Homo sapiens: one gene and its partners. The protein of the gene in region 6 interacts with the protein of the main gene of each other region in a pairwise test. Each region holds a gene or a part of one and is shown on either strand. Other genes may lie near its edges.

The links.
Region 1: the proteins of FLNA (region 6) and ARHGAP24 interact in binary tests that used the Homo sapiens proteins (3 or more experiments, as listed by UniProt).
Region 2: the proteins of FLNA (region 6) and CCDC141 interact in binary tests that used the Homo sapiens proteins (3 or more experiments, as listed by UniProt).
Region 3: the proteins of FLNA (region 6) and FABP1 interact in binary tests that used the Homo sapiens proteins (3 or more experiments, as listed by UniProt).
Region 4: the proteins of FLNA (region 6) and MAGEC3 interact in binary tests that used the Homo sapiens proteins (3 or more experiments, as listed by UniProt).
Region 5: the proteins of FLNA (region 6) and RFLNA interact in a two-hybrid assay, tested with the Homo sapiens proteins (2 studies listed by BioGRID).
Region 7: the proteins of FLNA (region 6) and KCTD13 interact in binary tests that used the Homo sapiens proteins (3 or more experiments, as listed by UniProt).

The regions. Positions count from the first base shown.
Region 1 is NC_000004.12:85,991,818-85,996,772, reverse strand, and holds part of ARHGAP24 (rho GTPase-activating protein 24), read right to left. Parts: intron 2,191-4,955; coding exon 1,116-2,190; intron 1-1,115. UniProt on the Homo sapiens protein: Rho GTPase-activating protein involved in cell polarity, cell morphology and cytoskeletal organization. Acts as a GTPase activator for the Rac-type GTPase by converting it to an inactive GDP-bound state.
Region 2 is NC_000002.12:178,829,242-178,834,196, reverse strand, and holds the end of CCDC141 (coiled-coil domain-containing protein 141), read left to right. Parts: coding exon 1-24; 3' UTR 25-3,401; coding exon of another isoform or gene 3,402-3,439; 3' UTR 3,440-4,440; downstream 4,441-4,955. UniProt on the Homo sapiens protein: Plays a critical role in cortical radial and GnRH neurons migration during brain development. Regulates cortical radial migration by negatively controlling the activity of histone deacetylase 6 (HDAC6) and promotes centrosome maturation.
Region 3 is NC_000002.12:88,122,482-88,125,062, reverse strand, and holds the end of FABP1 (fatty acid-binding protein, liver), read left to right. Parts: intron 1-476; coding exon 477-569; intron 570-1,958; coding exon 1,959-2,009; 3' UTR 2,010-2,081; downstream 2,082-2,581.
Region 4 is NC_000023.11:141,844,066-141,849,020, forward strand, and holds part of MAGEC3 (melanoma-associated antigen C3), read left to right. Parts: intron 1-4,955.
Region 5 is NC_000012.12:124,313,562-124,317,232, forward strand, and holds the end of RFLNA (refilin-A), read left to right. Parts: intron 1-630; coding exon 631-964; 3' UTR 965-2,463; downstream 2,464-3,671. Other genes in the region: ZNF664-RFLNA (refilin-A), read left to right, coding at 631-964. UniProt on the Homo sapiens protein: Involved in the regulation of the perinuclear actin network and nuclear shape through interaction with filamins. Plays an essential role in actin cytoskeleton formation in developing cartilaginous cells.
Region 6 is NC_000023.11:154,353,667-154,357,634, reverse strand, and holds part of FLNA (filamin-A), read left to right. Parts: intron 1-11; coding exon 12-201; intron 202-360; coding exon 361-384; intron 385-2,562; coding exon 2,563-2,810; intron 2,811-2,923; coding exon 2,924-3,019; intron 3,020-3,151; coding exon 3,152-3,254; intron 3,255-3,343; coding exon 3,344-3,484; intron 3,485-3,591; coding exon 3,592-3,720; intron 3,721-3,907; coding exon 3,908-3,968. UniProt on the Homo sapiens protein: Promotes orthogonal branching of actin filaments and links actin filaments to membrane glycoproteins. Anchors various transmembrane proteins to the actin cytoskeleton and serves as a scaffold for a wide range of cytoplasmic signaling proteins.
Region 7 is NC_000016.10:29,918,272-29,923,226, reverse strand, and holds part of KCTD13 (BTB/POZ domain-containing adapter for CUL3-mediated RhoA degradation protein 1), read left to right. Parts: coding exon 1-37; coding exon of another isoform or gene 38-91; intron 92-1,265; coding exon of another isoform or gene 1,266-1,373; exon of another isoform or gene 1,374-3,696; intron 3,697-4,955. UniProt on the Homo sapiens protein: Substrate-specific adapter of a BCR (BTB-CUL3-RBX1) E3 ubiquitin-protein ligase complex required for synaptic transmission.

The DNA of each region.
Region 1 (4,955 bases), on a different chromosome or scaffold from region 6:
AGAAGAGTAACCTTTTAAGATAATGACCCTATATTTTTCTTTAAATCTCCTGTCACTCTCCATTATATAGAAAAATTCAAACCACAATTCCACTCAGTGAAACTTACCAAAAAAATACTTTCCAAGGAAGTAATTTTTCAATCTCATTTATAAGTAGTATTTTTTAATATTTATTTTGCCATAGCTTCTGAAAGTACGTTATCTTTTTGTCTGATAATTGATGAATGGATAGGAAACATATTAAGGTAAATTAAAGCCAACTTAACAACCAACTGAGGATCCTAGCACACCATGGAGGAAGGGTTGTCCAAATCACACAGCCTGAAACTGGGACTGAGAACACTAGAGGAGCTACTCCTACTTTGATCATTTTATGAGAAGATGCACATTGATATAATTAGGTTTTAGCATAATTGCTTCTTTATAAATCATATTCTTTTTTCCTCATTTAGGCTACAGTCTTCCTTATTCATGTGAACATACTTCACGTCACCCCTCTTCTCAAAAACCTCCATGGATTTCTATCTCAGAGTAAAAGTCAAAGGCTGAAAATCAGCCTGTCAATCCCCTATGTCACCTGGCTCTTATGGCCTCTCTCAGCTCATCTGAATCCTCAGCGTCTGGAACAGAGCCTGGCAGATAGAAGGCACTCTCTCAACATTCAATGATTGAAAGAATAAAACATGGAGGTCTATTTACTTCTACTTTTTTTACCCTAGTTTCATCCTTTTCTTGTTAGTGAAAACTAACAGGCTCCTAATGCTCTGTCCATCTCCTCACAGCCCCTCTCCTTCCAGCCCTCTAATGCAAATCTATCTATTTAATAATAATCAAAGATGACATTATTGAGCCTATTCTGTACCAGGGAAATGTTCAATCACTTCTTATGTGCTTTTGAGGTAGATACTACTAGTATTTAAATTGTTTACATTAGGGAATCAAAGCTCACAGAGATGAAGCTAACTTGCACACAGTCACAAAGCTCATAAATGATGGAGCAAACTTGTGTTTCTTTGACTTTGGAGCCAGCATATGTCACCCTCAGTGTGATCCTGTCCCACAGTAGGAGGCTACTGAGCCCTCTCTGGTAGTTACGACCTCCAGATTTTCCTTACCTCTTTATCCTGGACTCATACTCTATCTTCTGTTTGGTCATTTCCTGTTTCAGGCTGGAAACTAAACTGTGCAGTGCACTGTGGTTGCTGCTGCTGTTGCCCACAAATGTCTCACTGTTGTCACTGCTACTGGTGGCACGACTACTTCGACCTCCCACACTCCTGTGGTCACTTTTGCTTTCATAGTCCCTGGGGTGGGAAAGGTCGTCCTGCGGGGGCCCATCCAAAACAGGGTCCTCAAAGTTCCCCCCAAAAAAGTCTTGCTCTGGGCAGGTGGTGGTAGAAGAGCGACAGGAGTTGGAGTTCTCAGGGAGGGAGATTTCACAGGAGGAAGTGGACCAGGTAGCACTGTCAATGCTCTGCTTGTCATCAAGGTTCATCATGGAGAACTGTTGATGGACATTATCATAGGTGGACAGTCTGTTGTGCTGGCCTAACTCTCCAGCTTGTTCTTTCTGCTTGTTATCCCTCAGGGTCACATAGCCATTTGGCAGCCAGCTCATGTTTCGAACATTTGTGGGGTTCCCGAGTGTGTCGCTGTTCAAAATGCCCATGCGCACCGTTCCATTCTGTACACTGTGCGTGCCCATTTTGGTACCAGATACCTTCAGTGAAGAGCTCCTTCTGGCCTGTAGGCTCCCATTGGGGGTGGTTTGGGTTTTCTCAAGACCTTCTGCATTACTGCTGCTGAAGGACCCATTGGTAACTATCCCACTACCCTTATTAAAGGCTGGGTTCTTTTTGACCATGAGAGGGGGGCTTCTAGACACATCTAGCTTGTGAACACTGTTCTTTGGGCTGTTGGTTTTGCTGCCTGATAGAGCTGTGGGGGATCCATTGTTCATGCTGCTTCTCTGGGGTGACTCAGACTTGTCCCAGGAGCACTGCCTACTAGGGCTGTCCTTGGTGTTATTGTTCTCCTTGTTCTGTAACTGCCCCATGGTGGCTTTCTTCTGAATTTCATTGTTGTTGCTCACTCCATCTTGGGGCTTGCTTTGTAGTTCTGCATCTTTGGGAAAGAGGCAATCATGTTTGCTAATCATCACTGACATCAACTGCTGGACCACCACAGTGCCTAGAATTGCATAGAACATAAAGTAGCATGAGTGAGACAGTTTTTATTTATTTCTATTTCAATGTGACTCTTAAAGAAACACATTCAAGAGAACATTCATTATTATTATCAGTACCAAACCATATTCTTAACTATGATAATAGCAATAGAAGCTAAAACATCTTGAGCATTTACTTTGTGCCATGAACTGTGTCAAGCACTTTGCTTTTGTAATTTAATTGAATTTTGAAATAAATCTATACATACATACTGTTATTATCACTGTATTATAAAGGTTAAGTAACTTGATTAAGGTTACACGTTAAGGACCAGACCCAGGGCTTGATCCCAGGGTTCATTAAAAACCTGGGCTCTTAATCATAATACAATGTTTATTAAAAATTTGACATTTAATTCTGAGAAATATTTCTTAGGAGGAGGTCACTGTGACCTCTCATCTAATAATTGCCTCAAACTATCAAGATATTTTAGTGGCATCTGTAAATGGAGCCCAATACAATCAGGTGGATGCATGGTTTCTCTAATATATCAAGATAATGAAAATCCATAAGACTTTTGTTCACCATTCAAAAACTTCAGGGCATTTTAAGCGACATCAGCCAGAATGGTGTAGTGAAGACCTCCAAAAATCCTCTTCACCATATAAGCAACTAGCAAAAATCTCCAGAATCAACTATTTTGGAATTCTGTAAATTAACTAATGGCTTGATGCAATCTGGAGAGTGTTTACTTAAGAAAAATGGCTGAATCTCAGTAAGAGCAGCAAGGTCTGTGGCGTTTTAACTTGCTCTAATCTTCTCCTCCTCTCCTAGAAAACCAACAGCCCAAAATCACAAAGAAAACCAGCTATCTGGCAGCCACTGGAATGGGCAGAGCAGGGTTGGATTTTATGTAGTTTCTATATAAAATACTTAAAACTTGAGATTTGGTGAAGAAAATGATGCAAAAAGGCTTTTGACAATGCATAATTTCATTACAACAGCAGCTAATTGAGAGGCTGTCAGGGAGTAGAAACCTGACCTGAGGCAAGGCCACTCTTTAGCTTCCGGTGACACCTGGGAAATATAATTCAAAATCAGATTTTGAAGAGGAAAAAACATATTATATTCATTTATATTCTACACACTTTTCTTGTGATGATTCAAAACTTATAATATTTTCGACTGCATATCAGCAATAAGCAAGATCTACTGCTACATCAATGTTATTCAAATTTTAAAGTTCATAAAAATTACCTGGAGATCCTGTTAAAAGGAAGATTGAAATTCAGTAGGCATTGGGTGGGACATGAGATTTTGCATTATAAACCAGCTTCCAGATAACATCAGCAATAATAGAATAGTAGCACTGGCATCACCTGGAAGCTGAAAATTTTAGCACCCAATGCAGAGCTTCTGAATCAGAATCCCCAGGTGATTCCTGGGTGCATTACACTTTGAGAAACACTGTAGTAGATGCAAATGTTTCCCTTATATCTTCCAAATTAAATTTCTTGAAAGTCCGAAAGAGAGGATTCATTTTTTTTTTCAGATGAGAAAATTGAGGGTTAGAGAAGTTAAACTATTTGCTCAGGGCACAGAGACGATGTGATCAAGGTGAAATGCAATATTTAGTCTTATTCCAAATTATGCATTTGTCCTACTATATTTCAGCTGCTGCAATTTAAAACCGTAGCAGTAATAAGTAAACTTGGGATAGTTTTAAAGATAAAGTTAGATAAAGATAAATATCTATTGAATTACCATCAATTATTACAGAATTGTGAAAAAAGACAATGTAATAATTGATTGTATTATATAGCCTTCTTTTCTCTTTTAGGAATCTCCGAATTTGTCATCATATTTTCCATGCATGTTAGCAGTGAATCTGATAAAAAGAATTTTAGAGCAGTTAGAATAACTGTCAAACTTGTGTACTGTGTTTGAAGACATTGTGTATTCAATGCTATTTTACTATTTGCCCACACGCAGACACACTTTCGGAGGTTTGCAGTTTCCATTATATATGACTGTCTAGTATTTTGGGAAAATGGACCTTTTTCCTATCATTGGAATGTTAACATTTGAAGTATCACTGCTTCCCGTCATAGCTATGAACTGTGTGGGAGCATGTAATTAATTGAAGAGCAACATCCTTAAGGTCTCCATGATGAGTTTGTGAACAGCCATGTCAAAGTGTACTTGTCACAATTATGGAGTATGAGTGTCAGGTCCCTAGAGATTTAAACTCTCTTGTATCTTGGGAAGCTTTGATTCCATCTAGTCTCTGGGACAATAAATGGCCATAGCCCCTTGTAAAGAGACTTTCTTAGAATTTTTATAGTTGTTTAGGACAGACTAGCTCGGCAGTAATGATGATGTGTGTGCCACTGTACACACTATCAGTTTTTCCTTTTGATTCCCTGTCATTTTCTTCTTAGAATGCCAATGAGGAACATGAAGCCCAGATAATGAGGTCAGACTGGTTATAATCACCAGCCCATTCTGAAGAGTCCAAGCAGATTCTGGAGTTCCACTGTGCTACACGATCCAGCAATTCTTCCCTGAACCATATAATTTTATACAGGTTGACTCTAAATATCACATAATAGGCACTTTTCATCATAAGCATTGGCTAAAAATTTGATTTTTCTTTAAAAAAAACCTAGGGACTTTAAATATAATATGTAAATGCAAAAATATATGTAGATGACAGCATTCTGTGCAATATAGTTTCAATTTGTATTTTTTGCAATGAATAACTTTGTACATGTGTCATTTTGCATG
Region 2 (4,955 bases), on a different chromosome or scaffold from region 6:
ATGTACTGGCTCCTCACACAATAACTGTGGTGTTGGCACCAATGGACATCATTCTCATGTGCCTAAAGAAAAGTGCCGCCGTTTATCTTCCTGCACCTCCTGCAAAGCATCTCCCACCAAGTGTATCTCCAGTCTGATCACCATACTTGTTTGGCTAATACCACTGCTAGGTGAAATAATCAAATTTTCTGGAGCGTTTAATATATTTGAGAAGCTTGGTAAATTATCTGTAGTGGATAAGAACAGATTTTTGTACTCTAGAAACAGATGTTTTCAACATAATATGCAGCAAAATTATTCTATGCCTATTCCCTCCTAATTTAAGGGCGTGCAGATGAAGGCTGACATCGGCATAGAAATGTGCTAAATTTCAAATATGGTTGTTCAATAATATATTTTTAATTGTATTTTAAAACATCCCTTTGTAGGGAATATCAGTAGAACTATTGAATTGATGTTGTATTTTTGCATTAGCTGTCCTTTAATTTTGCTTTCCATGTCTTGATCTTGTTACCGAAATGCATTCTGTGTAATTTCAACGTAGACTACGTTCCTGAGTCTGATGATGTCATTGTAAATAATCATTCCTCATGTTGCTCTCACGGGTTTGACATTGGAGGATAGATGTGCCATCAACTTTAAATAGAGTTTCCATCTTTTGTCAGCTCTGCATGTCATACAGCAAGATGGAACACAGGTTGCAAGAAAGAACCAACGTTATTCCTGACATTCTATTGATGTGTTTTGAGCAGCAATGTGTAACCAGGTGTTTCTGCTTCTAATCTTGATTCTGCTGATGACCATTTTTATACTTTATGGCAAAGCCTCATTGCCTCAGTTTCCTGTCTGGAAAATGAGTTCATCATCTACCTCTTGGGCAATTGAGAGTTTTCATTTTGTGTCTTTTAAACATCTGGAAAATGGAAAACACTGAGGGCTAAGGATAATGATATTGTTTAATGTAATTTGTCATCAGACCGGCCTCCTGCTCACTATTTCTTTTTTTTTAGATGCTGTTTTTTTAGAATATTAAATTAAAGGAGTGCTGTTAATATGTAATCTTCAACTAGTTCCATGGAGGAAAGTGATGTTTTATGAATTAGAGCTTAAATTCCTATCTAATTTCTGAAGACTGCATTCTTTTCAAAGACTTGAAATTAAACTCAGGAGGATACATTTTGTTTGTTCTAGGGGGAAACGTAATAGAATGGTATGAGATGAATTCTATCCTTTTACAATAATTATTACTATAATATTGAAGTATTCTATGCCTTTCTGAAACACTTTATTCAGAAAAGATCATTTTTTGGCTTCCTTTTAAAAATAAGCTTGAAGTAGGGAAGCATTTGCTTCTTAGATTTTAAATGTAGTCTTATTATGCTGAGGAAAATCTTTAGTTGAAAGAATAATTCATTACAGATTTTTGATGAAGGGAAGAAATTAATTATGTTGCTGGAAGACTGTCTACAAATAATCAAAATATTTAAATGTAATGTATTCAAGTTGTTATTAAAAAGTTACTGAATGTTATCTGAAGATGTGAAATGTGTAGTCAAGTAAAAAGTTGGCGTATACTTTCTTGGGCTGCATATCCAATTTAATTAAAAAATTAAATCTCAGTTTCCTTCTAAATTTTGATAGAACTATATTAAAAGCTTGTATACACAGCATTCTAGGAAATTTCTCTTAACTATCTTTTTTTTGTTTTTTTTGTTTTTTTTTTTTTTTTTTGAGAAAGAGTCTTGCTCTCTTGCCCAGTGCAGTGGTGCCATCTTGGCTCACTGCAACCTCCACCTCCGGGTTCAAGCAATTCTCCTGCTTCAGCCTCCTGAGTAGCTAGGATTACAGGCATGCCTACCTAATATTTACATTTTTAGTAGAAACCAGGTTTCACCATGTTGGCCAGGCTGGGCCTCAGCCTCCCAAAGTGCCAGGATTACAGGTATGAGCCACCATAGCCGGCCTCTTGTATCCTTTTTGTCCAATTTCAAATAATGTGTGAATCTTGCCTAACTGCTGTTGCCCACGTTGAAGCTAAAGAGTAAAAACCTATTCATGAACAAAGAAGGCAGGTGAGACCCGGTAACAAACTGTCTCTCTTCCCACTTTCTCTTTCTTATTAATTTGGCAGGATCTCCCTTCCCATTTTGTCAACATGGTTGAATTTGTGTGTTGGGGTTGTTAGGGCATGGGAATTCCTGGTTTGCTTTCTCTATTGCATGCTTGTTCATGTTAACTCTTTGGGGAGCAGAATGAGATACATATGCATCCATGGTTATGATGGAAAAAAGCATGCAAAATCCATTTTTAGAGAGAGAGAGAAAGAGAAAGGTGGGGGTGGGGGAGCACAAAGATCAGAAGAGTACTATGCTGATATTCAAGATATAGTACAGATAGCTTTCTGTGTACCTATCCATCTACCTATTCATCTGGGCTATTGATTGACTCCCACAGCAGTAAAGAATAATTACGCAGTTATTCTTCTGGTTATGTTTTAATTTCAAAAAGTTAAGTGTGATTTTCCTTTTTGCTGGGATTTCTGTCTTGAGCAAATAATTATTCTTATGAAAGTATCAATTGCAGTTACTGGTTAAAAATGTAAGACCTAGGAAATTTAAGTGTTGTTTCTATTTTAAGGTATATACATAATTTATAACCATTTACTTCTAGAGAAAATCCTGAATGGTTAGTAATATCAAAACATTTTCAACAAGAAAACTAAAATGAAAAGAAAGTTTAAAAATTACATGTGTTACAGCTCTTTTAGAATTTGTCTAGCAGGTTTTCTGGTGAAAATTAAACTCAAGATTTTCACCAGAAAACGTTTTAAAACTTCTAAACTCTTAAACAAATTATAAATACTTGATACTTTGAAGAACTGCAAAACAAAATGTTTTTAAGTTTTCATAAGGCAAAATCATTGAGTTTTCCAGCTTTGATTTTCCAATAAAAGGATGTATAAATATTTGGTGGTAGTTTTTCACACTCAATTCCAAGAGAAATTTACTGTAGGAATCTGTACATTTGAATCTCTGAATATTCTATGATATTTAAAATATTTGAACAAGATGCAGAAAATTTTTTAGCTATATTAATCAATAATGGTAACCTCTATCACTCATAATCAAGACACATACTTAAAATAGATGACTACAAGACCCTTCTAACTGCTTTGCTCAAATTTAAATTTCCTCAAGTAGTTCATAGACCCTTTACAACCTGGCCTCCCCTCTCTGGCCTCGGTTTGATCCCCTCCTATTACCCCCAACCCCTAGTAAAGTGACATTTAACTTCAGGGTTTTAACATATCATGCTCTTCTCTCCAGCCCTTTCTTCCTATAACTCTCTTACTATCTTCACCACCCTATCTTCATGTGACTTAACTCTTGCTTATGTTCCAGTTCTGCTGAGACACAACTTCCCCTGGGAAGCCTCCTGACCCATCAAGTCCAGAGTAGATGGTCCTGCCATGTGCACTGTCAGCACCTGCACTGCCCAGCCACGCCCCTGAATATACACAAAGGAATCGCAGGTTTGAGCATCAGTCTCCTCTGGCTAGGCTGTAAGAACCTTATCAGCAGGATTCATGACAGCCCTGTTGTCATTGTATTGCCAGTACCTAAGACACAGTCACACTCAGTAAACTCTTTTGAATTGAATTGTTGCCAAAGGTAAACAAAGATAAACCTAGCTTGTTTTTCTCCCCTTTTTAGAGGGAGGAGAGGGGAAATGTAAAAAGACAAAGATGATTCTCCCTTCTTATAGACAGGAGTCAATCCGAATCAGGCCCTAACAATGAAGCACTCATGAAAATCTCTCACCTCATCTGCAAAACTTGTGTGAGAACCCTCCAGACCCTCTGGGCTAGACCCTGATTGAAAATTTGAATTTAAAAATAGATGCTGGCTCCACGGACTAAAATAATAGTAAGGAGGAAAGAGGAAAGGTCCAGGATTGTTGTTCCTGGATCAATATTGTTCCAACATTTTAAAGTGTTCCAACATTTTAAAACATATGTACTTAGGCATAAATCATCATCCGGTATGAGGAACTGGATGCCTCCACTCTCTATGACTAAATCCAAACTGTCAAAACCAGAATTTATGTACTTCTTTAGAACACTACGTAAATGATCAATATTTAATTGTAGCTGGGGCTCAGTAGTCTGGGCTGTGAACAGATCTTATTTGAAACCAGTATTTCATACAAACTTGTAAATATAAAGAAAGCCAAATCCAAGAACTTAAGAGTATTTGAATTCCAAATGAAGAAAGGAAAGAATATCTTATTTTGTTCTGCTTTATGTTTGTCTTTATTCATGACCATTTCTTACTAAAAATCACCATCTGAAGCTTTTGAAACTCCTGTTGTATGCACAGCATTTTAAGTGCAGCCATGAAATAAGTTAGTTGAAACAAAATAAAATATCTCCTTCCAGTATGCTCTGATATTGTGTCAATGTAAATGCCAAGGCATGACAGACTGTTTTCCATTTATAATAAGCGGAATCTTGAGTTGCATTGGAAAGCTAAAAGATTTGCGTTGACTTAAATGAAAGTGTCCTTTTTAAAGCAAAAACAATTCATTTTCTCTGTGCTTATCACAGGAGATGAGATTTGAATGTTATCAGTTGTGCATGAATTCAACCTCAAAAACAGGAAGCACACAGCTGTGATTTTGGCCTTTTTCCATGAATCTCCACAGCACTGTTCCTTTTGATGGTGAGAGTTTGTATAACATCATGAACCATCTGAGCATCAGTGCAGGTTGGAGGCATGACCCTCCTCAGGGTGAACAAGCCTTTGTGTTGAGAGTTTGAGCATTTGGCCTGCTCACTCTTCCTTCTGTTCAACAGCAGTTTCATTTGTGTAACCCAGGACATGGCAAATCGGATTCATTGGATCCTCCTTTTTGTACCACAAAATTAACTTCCTATCTTCCTTAAAGAGCAAGAG
Region 3 (2,581 bases), on a different chromosome or scaffold from region 6:
TGAAGTGAAAGGACTGTTTGAGCCTAGGAGTTCAAGACCAGCCTGGGCAACATAGCAAGACCTCATCTCAATTAAAAAAAAAAAAAAAAGAAGAATACATACCAAAGCAAAATATGTATTCTCTACTGGTCAATATTTGAATTTTGCCACTACCTCCCTCCATTAGCTTGGGAGAATTGAGATTTTACTTGATTTGATTTTAGCATTTGTATTTGGGGCCACTTAGGTGTTCCATGCTCATTTCTAGATCACATGCCATGAATTAAAGTTCTGACAAAAGAAGTCGTGACATTTTATTTAGTTCTTAAATGCACCTCACTTCTATTTGGAGCCAGAGAACTAGAGGCTTGGGATCATAGGAACCAGAGCATTTTGGTTGTTATGAGCTGAGACCTGTGCAAAGGAAGCAACTTCATTAGCAAGGCTCTTGCCCCCCACCACCCCTTCCTCACAGGTCACCTCTCTGTTCCCTGCAGACAGTGGTTCAGTTGGAAGGTGACAATAAACTGGTGACAACTTTCAAAAACATCAAGTCTGTGACCGAACTCAACGGCGACATAATCACCAATGTAAGTTGGTGGTGCTCTGAGCGTGTGGCTCCCAGTGCTTGAGGGGAGAGGGGAGGTGAAGCATGGGGAGCGGCTCACATACCCTAATGCCACCCCTCCACCCTCCAACCCCCAAACTTCTTTCCTGTGGTCAGTATCTGCCAGCACTTACTGAGGATCCATCATGTCCCAGGCAGTTTACACACATTATCACTAATCCTTTCTGCTCAGCGCAACCAACCAGCCACAGAGGCCTCCACCTGCCCTGCATGCCCAGGGTGCTTCATAAATGCCTTTGCCCATTTAGCGTTTATAAAGAGAATCCCATTCATGGTCATATTATGGCAGCTTACAAGCCTGGCACAGTCCAGTTATGCAGTCAGCCTTGGTGCCTGGCTGCCAGCCACATCCTGTACCCTATTTGGGGGTGAATGGTGCAGTGTTTCTCCTGCAGGTATGTCCCCCTGACTCTTCTTTGCCCCCAGAATATGCTTTAGGGAGTCACAGACAACAGAACACTGCCTCAGGGCGCTGTCATCACTCTATTCAAATGGAAAAATTCTTAAACTAGAGAGAGTGTGAGCATCAACCACCCAATGTGCAGTTTCCACCTCCGCCCCAGCACATTCCCAGGAGAGCAGGGGAGCAGGAGATGAGCTATCCTGCAGTAAGTCCTGGCCAACGCCCTTTGATAGGTTCCATCTCACCTAATCCTCCTGTCTCCTTCGAGGGAGGCTGGATGAGGGATTCAATAGACAGGTTGACCTGTCCAAGTCATCAGCTAATAAATGTTAAATCCAGGGCTCAAACCCATCAAGCAGCAACTATTGCATTGCTGCTGAAACTGAGGGGCTCCTTTTCACCCTGATGACATGGTATGTCATTCCAGCAGTCTTATTCAAGAGAACTGGCAGGGGTGGAGGAAACATCCTTAAAAACTCAAAAGCTGATGCATCCACTGTTTTTATATGCTTCACAGCTATAGGAGGACAATTATGCACTACCCACTGCCTTCCAGGCTGTGTGCCTAGTTGTGTCCATGTACATGTATCCTTGGTGCTCAACATGTATTTGGTGCATAGTAGGTACTCAATGAAATTTTGAGAAATTAGATTGGGCTGGTTTGGATGGTCTTGCTATAACAGTCATTGATGTAGAAAAGAATTCAGTCAAAGGCAGGAGGACTTTCCAGGTGAGGAGGAGAAGTGACAAAGACTTGGCATAGGATTTTGGAAAACATTGCCAACCTTTCCTCCGGTCCTACAGGAAACCAGACGAATTTTTGAATTGTTTCATATGCCAACATATTTGGTGCTGTTTTTTAAGCTTAATTTTGTTTTTTATGCTTAATTTTGTTTTTTACAATACAACATCAGATGAACACTTCATAATTTCTTTTCTGGCTTTCAGACCATGACATTGGGTGACATTGTCTTCAAGAGAATCAGCAAGAGAATTTAAACAAGTCTGCATTTCATATTATTTTAGTGTGTAAAATTAATGTAATAAAGTGAACTTTGTTTTAAAAAAAAATGTCTTCTCAATGCCTTTTCATTGATGGTGCTATTGCTCACCATATTCTCGTAAATATACTTTCGTAAATGTTGATAATCCACATGATCCACACTACCAGGTCAAATCCGAAGAGTAATTCCCTGAACACAAAACCCATGCTGCACACCCAGGTGTTCTGCCAGGAAAGCCAGGTGTGGCTAGATCTGCAGGAAGGCCCTGGAATGCCCTTTCCCAGTCAGGCACACGGGCAAGGAGCTGGAGCCAGAGGATGTGCAGTGGGCTGGCCTTGAGGGTGCTCTCTGTGGGGACAGGGAGCAGGAAGACTGGGCAGAAAAGGAGAGCTATACCCACAAGCACAGCCACAGTACCAGCCCACCAGCAGACAGGTGCAGAAAGGTCGACACTGACCCGCCCAATAAACTTTTCCTCCTGTGGGAGGCTGAGCAAAGGGCTTAGTGAGAGGCGCCAGAAGTGGACAGAGGAGGCTCAGTGGAAGTTCCCTCCATGCTATGGGCAGG
Region 4 (4,955 bases), about 13 Mb from region 6:
TGTAAGTTATTCTGACACTTTTCCGTCCGATATCATGTTTTTGAAATTCAATCCTGTGGATATGTGCAATTATAGTTCACTTAGTTTTACTGATGTACAGCATTCCATTTTATGAATACACTAAAATCTATGTATTAATATTCTTCCAGTGGGCACTTACATTGCTTGGTGGCAAATTTTCAAACTTTCTATTGTCTGAATATGTCATTGTTTCACCCTCACATTTGAAAAATATTTAAATTTGGCGTATGAGTTTAGCTTGGTGGGCCTAATCCCTTCTCATTCCCTTGCTGAAAAGTCAGCTCTCAGTGTAGTTGCAATATGTGAATTATCTTTTCCCTCTGAATTCTTTTAATATCTTCTGTGTGCCTTTGGTATTCTGCTGTTTCACTGTTATGTGTTTAGGTGTGCATTTGTTTTCATTTATTTCACTTAAAATTTGTTGGTCTTTCTGTATTTGAAGTTTAATGTCTTCAAAAATTGTGGAAAAACATCAATTATCTCTTTGACTATTTCCTTGACTCCTATTTTCTAGAGTCTATTGAGATTTTAGTTACATATATGTGAGACCTTCTCACTCAATACACCACATCTTTTAATTTATTTTTTATAATTTAATCTCTGTTTTTATTAGGCAGTATTCCAGATAATTTCTTCAGATTATTTTCCTTTCCAATTTAAAATATCTGTATAGTATTTGCATTAACGAGAAATTTTTATTTAGAAGTAATAAAAACCAATGCCAACATTACCAAACATATGATTCAGCCTTCTAGGAAAGTTTTGGAAATACCCTCTAGTGTAATTGAACATTTTTTTTCTCATTAGCTCACAAGACATTTTATTTCTCAAAAGTAATTGGTAATTTTTTTTTAAGCGCTAACGTTTTCAGCCATTCTAGGATATAGTATATGTTTACTGATACAATATTTTCTTCATTGATATTTCCTTTGCTAGTTCTTCTGCATCAGCATTTTGAGTAATATAAAAAGGTAGTCTGAGGCACTTTTTCGTACTTGGTTTAATTTAGGTATGAATAATGTAAAGTGATGATTTGTAGGAAATCTCAAAAATAATTTCCCAAGTTTTGCAGTTAGTGCCAAGGACATTTTGCAAATGTACTTATAATTTCATTTAGATACAAATAAAGAACTAAATTAAAAGAGAGGTAAAATGCTTATTTTCTTTGGAGTGCAAAACTTGCATACAGATATTGATTGCGTACAACTCTGTTTATAGTGATAAATGAGAATAGTCTTTATGATGGTAGAAAAAAATTTCCACACATAACAGCAAAACTTTTCATAAGGCTTTGGTAAGAAATATATGATAAATTATCTTTAAAGTCTTATATGCCAATATTAAGCTTTAAGTTTTGCCGAATAAAAGTCGTAAATATCATCATTTCAGCTCCAGTCGTATTTTTAACAAAGGGATTTATATGGTGACAAAACAGAAGTTATGCTTGAGGTGTAAATGTATTAAGTGAATATATCTCTACTGACATTCAACTTCTATGAGCTAGCTAACCTTTAAATGCTAACAAATTTGCCAGTAGACACCTGACTCCCATTTATTTAATGTTTTATTATAGTTGTTATGTTGTATGTTGTATTATTTTAGAGAAACTAATAGAATTAGTTACTATTTAAGAGTTACTTATTTTGTTGTGGTTGTATTAATTAAGCTCTTATAGGGGAGAAAAAGCTCTGTAAAGTAGAATAGTTTCGTTGAAAAAGGATTTATGGGCAACTGTTTATGACCAAATCCTGGCACTTGCATTCATTAGCTGTATGACTAGGAATCTTTTCTGCACTTAAGTGCCCTCATTTGTAAAGTGGATATTATAATACATATGAATACATATGTGATAGAGGTATAGTGAAAGTAAGTTAAATAATAAATTTTAAGCATCTAAAACAGGGTCTAACATCATATATTGAAAATGTATTATGTTTTAGTTGTGATACCAGATGCTAAGATACGGAGAGGACAGACAGCTCCTAGCACATAATAGGTAAGTTCATTTCCACCAATTTAGTGGTTCTTGGTCTTTATTCCGTTTCAGATTCAGATCTGCACTGCTTACTCAACAGCCAGTTCCCATGTGTTTTTAAATTCTTGTTGCTTCCTCACCAGTGTTTTTTTTTTTTTTTAAATAAATGTGTTCCAGTTACTTTCCACTCCTTTTCCAACTGATAGGATAATGTACTTATGCATTCAGAAATCTACAGTTGCTTTCTATTACAATTGATTACACCTCTAAACTTGCTGGCCTAAGAGGGGGAGTGGGTGATGAGATTTAACAACAGGCGAGTTGCTACAATATACAAATCTCTATGATTGGCAGTTTACTGTGAGTACTGAGACTCCCACCTTTTCTAATAGTCTTGCCTCCTTAAGGGATCCTAACAGGACAATGAGATGAAAATATTTAATAGTACAGACAAAGACGCTACCTATGTTTTCAGAAGGCTTGTAATTCTCTCTTAACTCACAAACTCATTTTAATTATTTATTGTGCCTTCTCTTTCTCAAGTCCCCCCAAGATGGTAACAAAACTAATTATATCTCATCATTTACTTTTACAGTATGTTAATTCTACTCTGGTTCAACAATATCTCAACAACACAATATCTTCATTACCTAGAAGAGTAAGAATGTAACTATGTGCATCCAAGTTTTTGCACTGACTTTATATATAATTTGACAGTTGTTGTCATTTAATGAGCTCCATTGTTAAATTATGATAAACTACTGTTGTTGCTAACTTTAGTTCTTCTGGAATAGGTCATATTACTCTCATTTTATGGGAAGCTGTAGTTTACTTCCACTGGACAAATTCTTGAGTCTCATTTTTCTCATTCATAAGATAATGATAATGGTACCTGTTTCATTGGGCTTATAGAATTAAGTACAATAAAATAAAAGCAATTACCCCAGTGCATTATTTACTATACACTAAATAGATGGTAATTTCACATGAATGAGAATATCTGAATAAAATCCCATTCACCTATATTATGTATTAGATGAACTTTAGAATCATAGAATTTAGAAATAGGGCAGTATGTTGGGAATTCTGTACTCTAGTGATTTCCAACTGTGTTGTAGGACACATTGGGTTTCTGAGGCTGTTGCATGAGAGGAGAACAAGCACTTGTTACCCTCTTTCACGTTATTCAACCAAAAGAGTTGTAGATTTCATTCACATCATAATTTCATTACCTTATAGAGCACTTATTGGGCAGATTTACCTCATTCAATTCATGATACACCACATAATCTGAAATAACCAACCATCCCAACATAGCACCTTCTGAAGATGTTCATAGGTCATTATGGATGGATTTCTTAATCACTGCCACAGTCCAGTCATAGTTATAGATATCAAATGCTTCAGAGAAGACTGAATATTCCAAAAGAAAGTATGTGTAATATTGATAAGTATGTTCTCCAAAACAATGAAGTTCAATTAGAAATCAACAAAGAAATAAATTTGTGAAATACACAAACAATTGAAAAATTAAACTACACATTTCAAATAACCCATAGGCTAACAAATAAATCGTACAGATAATTAGAAGAATGTCTTTAGCTGAATAAAAATAAAACCAAATATCAGAATTTATGGGGTCTGGCTAAAGCAGTGTTTAGAGGGAAATGTATAGCTATGATGCTTATATTAGAAAAGAAGAAAGATCTTAAGTAAATTAATCTCAACTTCTACCTTCAGAAATAGAAAAAGAAGAGCAAATTAAATCCAAAGCATACAGAAAAAGTAAATATAAAGATTAAAGCAGAAATTAATAAAAGAAAAAACAAAGTAAATACAGAAAATCCATGCAGCTAAATGTTGATTCTTTGAAAATGAAAACAAAATTGACAGCCTTGTACCTAGACTGAACAAGAAATTAGGAGAGTGGATATTGCATAGTCAGGATTATCCAGAGAAACAGGACCATCAACAGGGTATGCATGTGTGTATGTGTATGTATACATATGTGTGTGTAGTATGTATGTATAAATATATATACACGCATCTATATGTATACATATGTATACACATACATGTGTATCTAAAGAGGCAGCTATATAGAGAGATATTTATTTTAATGAATGGTTCACTTATTATTCTCAGAACTGGAATAAGACAAGGATACCCACTCTCACAACTCCTATTCAACATATTACCGAAAGTCTTAGCCAGAACAATCAGAAAGGAGAAAAAAAAATGAAAGATGTAGAAACAGAAAAATAAGAAGTCAACCTATCTATCTTCACTGACAATATGATTCTATAAATAGGAAACCCTGAAGACTCCACCAAAAGGCTTCTAGAACTAATAAACGACTTTAGTAAAGTTTCAGGATACAAAATCAATGTACAAAAATTAGTAGCATTTCTATACACAAATAACATCCAGGCTGAGAGTCAAACGAAGAACACAGTTTCATTTAAAATAGCCAAACGAAAGTGAAATACCTAGAAATATATCTAAGCAAGTAGGTGAAAGATCTCTACAAGGAGAACTACAAAGCATAGAGAAAAGAAATCAGTGACAACACAAATAAATGAAAAAAAATTACTTGTTTATGGATTGAAAGAATTAATATTGTTAAGATGGTCATACTGCCCAAAGCGATTTATAGATTCAATGTTATCCCTATCAAACTGCCAACATCATTCTTTACAGAAGTAGAAGAAACTATTCTAAAATTCATATGGAATCCAAAAAGAGCCTGAATAGCCAAAGCAATACTAAGGAAAGGACAAATACCTGAGGTGATGTATACCCCATTTACTTTGATGTAATTATCATGCATTGCATGTCTGTATCGAAATATCTCATGTACCCCATAAATGGATACACCTAATATGTACTCACAAAAATTAAAATAAATACATTTATAGAAAGAACAAAGTCAGAGGCCTCACATTACCCAGTTACAAAC
Region 5 (3,671 bases), on a different chromosome or scaffold from region 6:
CCAGCTACTCGGGAGGCTGAGGCAAGAGAATGGCGTGAACCTGGGAGGCGGAGCTTGCAGAGAGCCGAGATCGCGCCACTGCACTCCAGCCTGGGTGACAGAGCGAGACTCCGTCTCAAAAAAAAAAAAAAAGGTTGCATGTGCCTCTCAAACAGATTCACTGGTTGTTTATATCTTGCCCTATTTGAGAGGAGATTGGTGACATCCTGCCCTTTAGCCCCCAGATACTTCAGTGTGTCTCTTAAGAACAGGGACATCCTCTTCCATGACAGCAGCATAGTTGTCAACGTCAGGGAAGTGCACACGGTGACGCCAGCACCTAACCCACACGACACGGCTCAGTTTCACCCATCGTCCCGATAAGGTCCTTTCCTGGCTTACTTTTCTCCCCAGTTCAGGATCCAGTCAGGGTCCTTCATTGCGTTTAGCTGTCTCGCCTCTTTAGTCTCTGTGAAGCCAAGACAGTCCCTCAGTCCTTCTTTGACCTTCTTGACCTTGACATTTCAGAGCAGCCCACACCCGTTAGGCTTCAGAGCATCTGCCCAGGGCCCTTTCGTGTCCATGCTGAGGGCAGGGAATCGGGCTGCCCCCAATCCTGGGTTCACTCCGCTTCCCTCCTGCCCTTTCCAGCTGCAACTCTGAGGTCAAGTACGCCTCGGAGAAGCATTTCCAGGACAAGGTCTTCTATGCGCCCGTACCCACCGTCACGGCCTACAGCGAGACCATCGTGGCAGCACCCAACTGCACGTGGCGCAACTACCGCAGCCAGCTGACCCTGGAGCCACGCCCGCGCGCCCTGCGCTTCCGCAGCACCACCATCATCTTCCCCAAGCATGCCAGGAGCACTTTCCGGACCACCCTGCACTGCAGCCTGGGCCGGCCCAGCCGCTGGTTCACCGCCAGCGTGCAGCTGCAGCTTTGCCAGGACCCTGCCCCCAGCCTCCTGGGCCCTGCCACGCTCTGACGGGGCTGGGGCCGGCCCGGGGTGCTGGAGGAGCCGGGAGCCCTGGGGAGAAGCCGGGAGGATGGACACGATGAGCTCGGCCTGGCACTCGGGCAGGAGGCGGGAAGGGAGGCTGCCAGACCAAGGACCCGTGTGGAAGGAGGCGGCTCCCCGCTGCCTGCCCTGACCTACAGGCTAGGTGGTGGTCTCCTTGTTTTGGTGTCAAGGACTCAGTAAAAGCATCTATTTTTTTAGCACTTAAGCTGGCAAGGCGGTAGGGGCATGCACTGTTAGGTGGTGGCCACCCCCAGGGTCAGGGGAAAAGAATGGGTCCATGGAGTGCCCTTGAAGCAGAGAACAGCCCCGAGCAGTGTGAGGACAGAGGCATCCCAGCCTCAGCCGGTGGGGACGGCTGCCACTCCCCCAGAGCCCTGCCACCCCATGTGTCCTAGGCTGGTGGCCAAGGCCATGTGTGAGGGAAGAGGGGTACCTCTCTTCCCTGCTGCTGGCCTGGGGTATTTCCAAAACAGCCTTTTCGCACACATGCAGGTTGCACCGAGAGGTCTGGAGCTGTGGCTGAGCCACCTCTGGCGGATGTTGAGCCAGGAGGTTGGGCAAAGGCCGGATGCTGATGCCAGCGCTGGAGGTGGTGATACTGGGGGCGGGGAAGGCCTAGAAATACTTTGAGCCATGGCCTTGCCAGTGTCCCGTGCCCTCCAGTGTCAAAGATTTGGGGCACTGCCCGTCGAAATGGAAAGGTTGGTGCTCAGCCTCTGGAGCCTCACCTGCAGGGCGTCCCCAGCTAACACCCATCCACGCACCACCTCCAGGACGAGAACCCTTGATGTCAAAACCAAGTGCCCAGTGGAGGCGGTGAAGCTCTCGGAAATGCTGCCACCTGTGTGAGGCCGGGTCTGAACTCGAGGGAGTCGGAGCTCAGCTGTCGGTTTAAAGAGACACTGAGGGGACCGGGCTGCCGCCCTCAGCCTGCATTCCTGTGCGCAATCGATTCCGCAATGACAGCACCTTACTCCTTCCTGCGGCAGGCTCACCCCTGCCTGTGGGATGTTGTGAGAGGAACATGAGCCAGACAAAGACTTGGCTCAGGGCTCCGTGGAACAAGCCAGGATGCACGGGGAGCTGGGGGAGCCCCCAGCCTGGGGCAGCCCAGCAGGCCGCTGAACAAACACCCCAGAAGCCAGCACTGTGGCAGGGTGCTGGGGAGATGCCCCTCTGAGCCTTCCTCCCCCCTCAGACCTGAATGCACTCCACAGTTGGGGGCTGCCCCTGCCACTCCCCTGGTAATGCATAAAAGGGGAGGGGAAGGTTCCCTGGGGCTTGAGCTCCCTCTGTGGAGGTGAGGAGGGGAGATTCCGTTCACATCCAGGAGGGGCAAAATGACTGATGTATTTTTATGTATCTACACAGAGAGTGCATTTTCTCTCCAGAGATGCTGTCTGGTTAACAAAGGAATAACTTAAGAAATTGATTGATTATCTTAATAAACTGTGCAAACCCAACGGGACTTCCTTTTCTGTCTGTGAGACCTTCAGCTCCCGCTGGGGTTGGGGAAGGGGAAGATGGGTCTCCAGGCCCCTTTTCCTGTGTGGCCATCACTTTTTTTCCACTCGGAGCTTGTGCCCTAAGGAGCTGGCCTTGGCCCTGATCAAAGGAACAAAGAAGGACTCAGCCCCCACCCCTGTAGACAGCCTAAGCGTACACCACCTCCACACGCCAGCTCCACCCAAGAGCTAATTAATAAATGCAGAGGCCTGGGACCTACCTGGGGACTCAGATCTGGGGGGCAGCTCCTTGGATGGGCCCGGGCATCTGCACTTTGGATGGCGTGCATATCTGCAGCTCCATATCCTGGTCGTCAGCTCTGGCAAGCCCCTCAACCCACAGCATCCCTGGAGAAGGGCCCTGGCTGCCACTGCGGAGCAGGCGGCTGGGACGCACCTTACAATCTGTTTCTCTCCATCTCGCCCTTGGAGAGGCCCATGGGGCTCCATGGAGATAGTGAGTGTGTTAAAGGGAACACTCGGCAGCCAGGGGACAGTGAGTCAGACTGGAAAATCAGACTAGAATTTGCTCCCAGGCTCTGGAGTTGGTGGGGGCAGGGGATAAGGGAGTGTCCCCAGAGGCTGCTGGGGACAGGTCTTCCGAGGGGATGTGTCACAAGAGTGCCATGGTCAGGACTGGTGGTAGCCTCTTGAGGTCCACACCCTGGTCTGGCAGTGGTTAAGCTAACACTAGTGGGAATGCTATGCGTGCTAATTCAGAGCACTCATTGGATTTCAGGCTCTGTAGGAAACATTGCATATGAAAACTTGCATGCCATCCCTACCCGCTGACATGGATGCAACCGCATCTCCACTTCACAGAGGAGAAAGTAAGGCACAGAGAGGTTAAGTCATTTGCCCACACTGGTAGGATGCAGCTGGTAGGAGGCAGAGACAGGATCTGAACCCAAGATCCGGGACACTCTAAACCACCGGCTGCCTGCTTTGATGGAGGATGGCCCCTAACAGGGAAGGGGGGATGGAAGCCAGAGAGGCTGAGTCCAACACAGGTTCACATCAACTCGAGGACGAATCTTGAGGCCTCCACTGGTCTACACGGACAGAAGCACGCCTCAAGACCCGAGCCCTGCTTTACTCATGGGATTCCCTACAGATGCCTGCTGGGGGTGGCATTCTTTGCACCTTCCTTAATCCATGCAAATTCA
Region 6 (3,968 bases):
CTGCCACACAGGATCCCGAAGGCAAGCCGAAGAAGACACACATCCAAGACAACCATGACGGCACGTATACAGTGGCCTACGTGCCAGACGTGACAGGTCGCTACACCATCCTCATCAAGTACGGTGGTGACGAGATCCCCTTCTCCCCGTACCGCGTGCGTGCCGTGCCCACCGGGGACGCCAGCAAGTGCACTGTCACAGGTGAGCCCGCCCGCTGTTGGCCGCTGCGGCGCTCGGCACGGGGCTTGGGTTGTGCCTGTGTGCAAGGGCTCGCTGCTTGGGGCGGCGTGTGGGAGTGGGGGCCGCCCCCTTGAGTGACTCACCTGACCTTTCTCCTTGCTCTCTGCCCTCTCACCTCAGTGTCAATCGGAGGTCACGGGCTAGGTAAGCTGCTTGCTGGGGCCACTCCCAATGCCCCTCCTGCCCAGAGGGGCAGCTTCCTTTCCTCTTGGGGCCGATTCCCAGGACAGTTCCAGCTGCAGCTCTAGGCAGGGACAGAGTTGGGTGGGGTGCAGAAGATGAGGCCGTGGGCTGGAGGGCGAGGGCCCAGGGAGGCTTCCGGAGCTGAGCATGACCGCTCCAGCTCTTCCCCTCTCTGGGCCTTTATTTCCCCATCTGAGAACTCGGGTTGCAGCTGAGAGCTTTGGGGTGAGGTGCATCCTGAGAGGCACCCCACTGGGGACTTTGGGGTCTCGGGATCTTGGCACCCAGGGAGGCACAAGGGCTCCTGCGTGGGCTGAGGGAACAAGGGGTCTCCCCAACTCAATGGGAGCCCCAGCCCTGGCCAGATCCACAGACCCCCATCCCCACCTTCCAGGGGCCTCTGCGTCCCGGGCCGGGGGAGGTGCATGAGCGGGTGGGGCTGGCTGGTAGTGCAGTAGCGCCAGTGTCGACTGCTTGGGCGGCCAGCATGGCGGGGCCCGGCCCAGCCTCAGAGCCCCAAAGTGCATTCTGTGGCCCGTCTCCCTCCTTCCCCCTTCCCCTATCCCCCAGCAGTGACGTTATTCAGACATTCCCCAACAGGCATGGAGGGTCACCTGCCCCAGCCAGGGACACCCAGGGATGCTGATGAGAGGCTACAGGCCTGGCACTTGGGCGAGGTGGCTAAGGAAAGGGTGAGAGGGTGGCTAGAGTTTTGCGGCAGGAGCGAGATGGCTTTATAGAGCAGGCCGTAGGATCCGATGTGTGTGTGACAGGCGTGTGTGCGCAGGGCGGGGGAGGCTGGGGAGTACTGATTGCAGGGCCTTGGGGGCTTTGAGGGTGGGAGCAAGACTCAGTAACCTCAGTTTCCCTGGCTACTGTTTGCAGAATGGAGACAGGGAGCCCGGGGTGGGGAAGGGGGCGCTGAAGTTGCTCTCTGGCAAGCTTGACGGCCACGGGGCTTCAGTGAGAGCCAAATTAGGAGGCATACTTTGAGGATGGAGTGGCTGAGACCTGCGGTTGGCTGGGAGCCGGGCAGGGAAAGTGGGGGCAGTCGGGTACCTGTGAGGTTGGGGCCCAAGCCACTAACTAGATGGCATGGGGTGCACATGAGTGAAGCCTCCCAGGGCAGCGTGGGCAGCCGGCAGCCAGGTCTGGAGCCTGGGAGAGCTGCCTGGCCGCGGCAGGCCAGCATGGAGCCTAGTGCAGCAGGAGCCCTCGGCCGATAGTGGGACTTGGTGGCAGGGCCCCTCGAGCTTGGCCTTCAAGTAGGTTTCGTGCTCCTGGCTGCTTCCCTGGCAGGAGGCCAGGCTGCAGGGGGCACTCTCACTGCCAGGCCTCACAGCCCACAGCCCCCCAAGCCTCCACGGCGGAGACCCAGATCATAACGTCACTGTCTCTCCCCTTTCCTCGGGCACTCTGGGGCCCTGGAGCCTGCTCAGCTGCTCTGCCCTCGCAACCCAGCAGTGGTGGCTGTAGCTTGGGCCTCCTGTTCCCTGTCTCCCTGGGTGCTATCCCCGCTCTGCCAAGCCTGCTGCGCTGCGCTACTCGGGTGCTAACCCCGCTGCCTCCCGCTTCCCCGCTCCCACTCCTGTCTGCACCGGGCTGCTTTTCACCGCGAGCCTTCTCAGTTGTCAGGAAACTCCGGTTTCACCATCAGGCCTGGGGGGTGGGGAGGCAAGTGTCACATCCCCCCACGCTGCAGCAGGACTCCGCCTCACCGCGTCCACACACAGCAATGGGGGCCGGGGCCAGGCCAGAAGGGCGCAGGCAGCCGTGTGCCCAGCCAGATGCTGGCGTTCAGCAGTGTGGGCCATGGTGCTGGACGAGGCTGAGTAGGCAAGGGAGTGGCTGTCAACACTTAGGCTGGAGTGGGCCCTTCCTTTTCCTCCCAGGCACCTGGGTGCTACTGTCGGGCCTCTCCCACATGGGCACTTGAGGTGGTCAGGAGAAACCTTCCTGCCTTCTGAGAAACCACTCGCCATCCCAGCTTGGAGGGGCAGGGCGGGGCAGGAGGCCTGGCGGCCTGGCTGTGCTTGGTGGTGGCAATGAGAGGCCTGTGTGGGCGGCAGGCGGACGGGAACAACCTGAACCCGAGCTCACACGCTGGCCCCCCTTTGGGGACCCACCCTGCCCCACCAGGTGCTGGCATCGGCCCCACCATTCAGATTGGGGAGGAGACGGTGATCACTGTGGACACTAAGGCGGCAGGCAAAGGCAAAGTGACGTGCACCGTGTGCACGCCTGATGGCTCAGAGGTGGATGTGGACGTGGTGGAGAATGAGGACGGCACTTTCGACATCTTCTACACGGCCCCCCAGCCGGGCAAATACGTCATCTGTGTGCGCTTTGGTGGCGAGCACGTGCCCAACAGCCCCTTCCAAGTGACGGTGAGGAGGGGTGGGGGGTAGGTCAGCAGGGGTGTCTGGCAGGTCCCGGCCTGTTCCCCTGGGGCCCCTCTGTGACAACAGACTCTCCAGCAGCTCTCTGCTTTGCCCTGCAGGCTCTGGCTGGGGACCAGCCCTCGGTGCAGCCCCCTCTACGGTCTCAGCAGCTGGCCCCACAGTACACCTACGCCCAGGGCGGCCAGCAGACTTGGGTACGGCCTGGCCAGCTAGGGACACTGGGGCTAGCCAGCTGGGTGTTCTGTGAGCCCCTAGTTTACCATGTGTGAGGAGGGACCCCAGATCCTCCCACTGTCCCTCACCCATGCCCTGTGTCTCCACTGCAGGCCCCGGAGAGGCCCCTGGTGGGTGTCAATGGGCTGGATGTGACCAGCCTGAGGCCCTTTGACCTTGTCATCCCCTTCACCATCAAGAAGGGCGAGATCACAGGTGAGTGGGGACTTGGGAAGGAGCTCGGGAGCCAAGGAGGCCAGACTGTGCCAATGAGCTGCCCTGACCTCAGCCCCACTGCCCCACAGGGGAGGTTCGGATGCCCTCAGGCAAGGTGGCGCAGCCCACCATCACTGACAACAAAGACGGCACCGTGACCGTGCGGTATGCACCCAGCGAGGCTGGCCTGCACGAGATGGACATCCGCTATGACAACATGCACATCCCAGGTGGGCCTGCCCTGCCTCTGCCCACTCCACCGCCACCACCTCACAGAGAGATGGGGCTGGGGGACACACGAGGCTGCCATTCCACAAGGCCCTTCTTCCTGCCTCAGGAAGCCCCTTGCAGTTCTATGTGGATTACGTCAACTGTGGCCATGTCACTGCCTATGGGCCTGGCCTCACCCATGGAGTAGTGAACAAGCCTGCCACCTTCACCGTCAACACCAAGGATGCAGGAGAGGGTGAGCAATAGCTCTGGTCTTGACCTGCTCTGTGCCCGGGATGCCCTCACCGGGGTAAGGGCTGGACTCAGGAGATACTCCTGAATGGGGCTCCCTGCCCTGCTGCCCTGGCCATCGGAGCTCCTCAGTGCAGGCCAACTGGAGTGTCCCCAGCATAGTTCCCATGCTCACCCACGGCTCTCTCCAGGGGGCCTGTCTCTGGCCATTGAGGGCCCGTCCAAAGCAGAAATCAGCTGCACTGACAACCA
Region 7 (4,955 bases), on a different chromosome or scaffold from region 6:
GCAGGGCCTGATTGAGGACTGCCAGCTGGCGCTGCAGGTGAGGGCCTTCGGAGTCCCCATGCCTATGTTCCTGGGAGAGCTGCCCAAGCAGGTATTAGAGCAGAAAAAAGGAGATATGGGGTATGGCTTGGAGAGCCTGGCTTTGGCTGGCCATAACCCCAGAGAATTTGAGGTGCCATCTTCTGCATCCCTGCCGCCTCAGGCAGCACCCCCACCCCAGCCTCATGCCAGGACCTTTGCAATGGTTAAATAGCTGCTCTCTACTTCCCACTGTTCCTATGCAGCCAGTCCAGCTGTTACACTCGCACCTGAGTAATTATCTTTCAGCACAACCCCGATCTATTCTCTCTCTTGCTTAGAAATCCTAAATAGCTCCCTCATGTCACTAGGGAAAAACATCTAAATTTAAATTGAAATATAATAACCTCTGCGATCTGGCCCTATCCTGGGAGGCAGCATTCTCCCATGGCTTCCGCCCCCCAGGAGCTTTCTAATTCTTTTTTTTTTTTAAACAGTGAAATTCTTTATTCAAATGAAATCTCACAGAAGCAGGGCCACTCCCAGTAAAACAGGGTTGGGGATTCTAGAGACCCCACCTGCTAGGCTCCACTTTTGTGGACCCCTTAGGGTTCTGAGGAGCAGAGCTTGGAAAGTGAAGCCAGGACATAAGGGTTCTGTGTCACCTCTGTCACAGCTGACTCAGTGACCTTCAGTGAGTCCATTCCTACCTCTGGGATTCTGTCCTCGGGTTCCGAAAGACAGGGAAGGGAGAAAAATAAGTACAAAGTAGTGAGTTTTACATAAAGCCTGTTATTCTGTTCTATTTTTACAATGTTAAAAATGTCCTTTCTTTTATGTTACAATAGTAAGAGAAGATTATAAAAGTTTCTTTTTGAATGCCCTTTATAGATTAAAAGGTTGCCTCCCTGAACAACTTTTGTCTCAGGGAATACTTACTGGTTCTTGAAGCCCAAAGGTGTAGAACTCCTTTGGACAATATCCATGTTTTTCAAACTTTTTGATTGCCTGCCATAGGGAAAAAATGCATTTTAGTACTCATTATATATAACTGAAATAACAGTTCTATAAAAAGATACTTTTAGTGAAATGTACTCTGATAATCTTTCTTTTTAATGCTGTTTGGGACCCATTACTTATTTCATGACCCATTAATAAATTACCACTTGCATTTGAGAAACATTCATTGTACTAGATCTTGGAAGTGCATTCCTGCTCTGTAGCATTTTTGTTTTGTTTTGAGACAGAGTCTCTCTGTCGCCCAGGCTGGAGTGCAATGGCGTGATCTTGGCTCACCGCAACCTCTGCCTCCCAGGTTCAAGCAATTCTCCTGCCTCAGCCTCCCAAGTAGCTAGAATTACAGGCGCCTGCTACCACGCTTTGCTACTTTTTTGTATTTTTAGTAGAGACGGGGTTTCACCATGTTTGTTAGGCTGGTGTCGAACTCCTGACCTCACGTGATCCATCCGCCTTGGCCCCCCAAAGTGCTGGGATTACAGGCGTGAGCCACCGGCCTGTAGTTTTAAATTTACTAATGTTAAAACTAAAGTTTTAAAACCCGGCCTGTAGTTTTAAATTTACTAATGTCATCATGTACCCACTGTGTGTCAGGAGCAATTCTGCTATCTGCTTGTGTATACATCTTGTATCCTTGTTTGACGTAAAAAGAAACGCGAGGGAGCTTGGAAGACGTGTCCAAGGTGAAAGAGCTGGGAAGCAGCAGAGCTCAGATTTGACCCCAGGCTACCTGACTATCTGACCTTCAGCCTCCCAAGAGCTGTACTTTTCTATACTCCTGCTCTCTCCTTTCCAGGTTCCCTCTGCACCTCACGCAGCTCAGCACACTCCTCAGTGTGTGGCACTTCATCAATATTGGTCTATGCAAACCTTTTGTCTTTTAGTTTTATTTCTTTCCCTTCATTCCCAGTCCCCTGCCTACTTTCCTTTTTCCCAGGGGCACCCATCCAATTTTAATGTTTTGATACATATGCTCGAAAAGCTAAAGCATTGTTCTGCATATGTGTGCATTTTAAATGTCCATAAATGGCATTGAAGCTGTGAATCAGTTTCTGTTGCATTGTGTTTTTTTAATTCAGCACTTTTTTTCAAGATCTATTCATGCTGCTCCAAGTACATCTAGTTCTTTGCTTCTAACAGCTGCAGAGAAATCTGCGGTGTTCATTCACCATATTTTGTTCATACATTCCCCTGAGGTTGGAGACCTAGATTGCCTTCCAGTTCCTGCCCCTACAAACCGTGTCACCATGAGCATCCTGGTACATGCTCCCTTCTGATTCTGTGCCAGTCTCCTGTCATTGTAGCTGGGAGTAGAATTGCTGGATAACAGGACACCTGCAAACGGCGTTTTAGTAAATATCATCTAATTGCTCTCCCGAATGGTTATAATACTTTATCCTCATAATGAGCAGTGCATAAGAGATTACATTTCTGCATGTCCTCATCAAGACATGGCATCATCCAGCTTTCTAATTTTGCCAATCCAATGAGTGTAGCGTGATCTCATTTTCATTTGCATGCCTCTGATTACTAATGAGGTTCAGCATCTTTTCATATACTCACTAGTGTTTTTTTGTTTCCCTTCCTGTGAATTGCTTATTCATGTTCTTTACCAGATTTTCTGCTTTTTTCTTTTTCATGTTGCTTAGCAGGAGATCCTTGCATATTTTAGTTTAGTTCCTAGGGATAATTAAGCCCTACTGCATATGGGTATGTCTTATACATTCCCTAGGGCATGGATTATATACATAACAAATTAACCTCTAAGCCTGTAGCATGGGACTATTTACCTACTGTTCTCAGCAAAGTTCAGAAAACACTCAAATTATTTGCTGTTTTTTTGTTTTTGTTTTTGTTTTTCTTTTTTTGAGGTGGAGTCTTGCTCTGTCGCCCAGGGTGGAGTGCAGTGGCGCGATCTTACCTCACTGCAACCTCCCTCTCTGGGGTTCAAGTGATTCTCCTGCCTCAGCTTTCCGGGTAGCTGGGACTACATGTGTGCACTACAATGCCTGGCTAATTTTATCATATTTTTGGTAGAGATGGAGTTTCGCCATGTTGGCCAGGCTGGTCTCGAACTCCTGACCTCAAGTGATCCACCTGCCTTGGCCTCCCAAAGTGCTGGGATTCAGGCGTGAGCCACCGTGCCTGGCCATATTTGCTGGTTTTTGAGATTCAGATGAGGAACTTCAGTTGAAAAAGTCTGTTCTAGATAAAAATTTCTAGTCAATGTAGATATCGCCAATATTTTTTCTTAGAATGTCACCCACTTGTGGCATCTAGCATTGAATGGAAATCCTTGATTTTTTAAAATTACAAATAACCATTGATTATTTTAAAGCAGTATTTATTAATTGTAGAAATTTCAGAAACACAAATAATCTAAAAAATAAAAGCACCAAATATTCTTCCAGGTCGTTTCCTGTGTGAGAGTATGTGTGTGTGTGTGTGTTTGCTTGCCAAAATACAATCGTGTTGTATGAAATGTTTTATAATCTGTTTTTTGTTGTTGTTAATAATTGCCATCTTTACATGTCAATAAATTTTTATTTAATATCCAGTCCAGGGCATACTCCGGTTTCTCCAGTTGTTCCAGAAATGTGTTTTTACAGCTGGTTCATCAAACCAGGGTCCAGTCTAGATCTTCACGTTGCATCTGGTTATCTGCAAGTTAACAATGGAAAGCATGACTTTACAAATAGTTTCATGTAATAATGTTGAAGAGATGATAAGAGTTATAGGTATTCTATGGCACGAATGTAATTACTGGTTCAGGTAAGGATTATCATTGATAGGTAACTGCCTTAATACAGTTACCATAATAATACCATAAGCATTACTTTATTACATAAGCCAAATAATACCATAAGCATTACTTTATTACATAAGCCAAATAATACCATAAGCATTACTTTATTACAATCCAAGGGGTCCCTTTTTCCTCACGATGCTGGCTTGTTAAAGAGACTGCCAGTTGTCCTGCACAATGACCCGCTTTCCAACTTTGCCTGGTTGTTTACTCCCGGTATCGTTTGGTTTATTACCCAGCCTTATCCTTAATTTCCTGTAAACCAGACTGTAGATTTTAAATGACTGATATTGGGTGGGCACGGTGGCTCACGCCTATAATCCCAGCACTTTGGGAGGCCAAGGCAGGTGGATCACTTGAGGTCAGGAGTTTGAGACCAGCCTGGTCAGCATGGTGAAACCCCATCTCTATTAAAAATACAAAAATTATGCCAGGTGCGGTGGCTCATGCCTGTAATCCCAGCACTTTGGGAGGCTGAGGCAGGTGGATCACAAGGTCAGGAGTTCAAGACCAGCCTGGCCAACATGGTGAAACCCTGTATCTACTAAAAATACAAAAAAATTAGCCAGGCCTGGTGGTGGGCATCTGTAATCCCAGCTACTCAGGAGGCTGAGGCAGGAGAATCGCTTGAACCTGGGGAGGCAGAGGTTGCAGTGAGCCGAGATCGTGCCACTGCACTCCAGCCTGGGCAACAGTGCGAGACTCCATCTCAAAAATAAATAAATAAATAAATAAAAAATTACAAAAATTAGCTGGGAGTGGTGGTGGGTGCCTGTAGTCCCAGTTACTCAGGAGGCTGAGGCAGAAGAATTATATGAACCTGGGAGGCAGAGGTTGCAGTGAGTCAAGGTTGCACCACTGCACTCCAGCCTGGTCAACAGAGCAAGACTCTGTCTCAAAATAAATGAATAAATAATAAAATAAATAAAATGACTGATATTAAACATTTTGTTTAGAATACATTTTAGGTAATATTATGTATGTATTTCACGTTGGGCCACATCAAGCAACCCATAATATTGTTAATATGACTCGTCATTAATGACGTTCATAATTGGCCCCTGGATCTAGGGGATGGTGGTTTGATTTCTCTATCATTGTTACATTTCCTTGT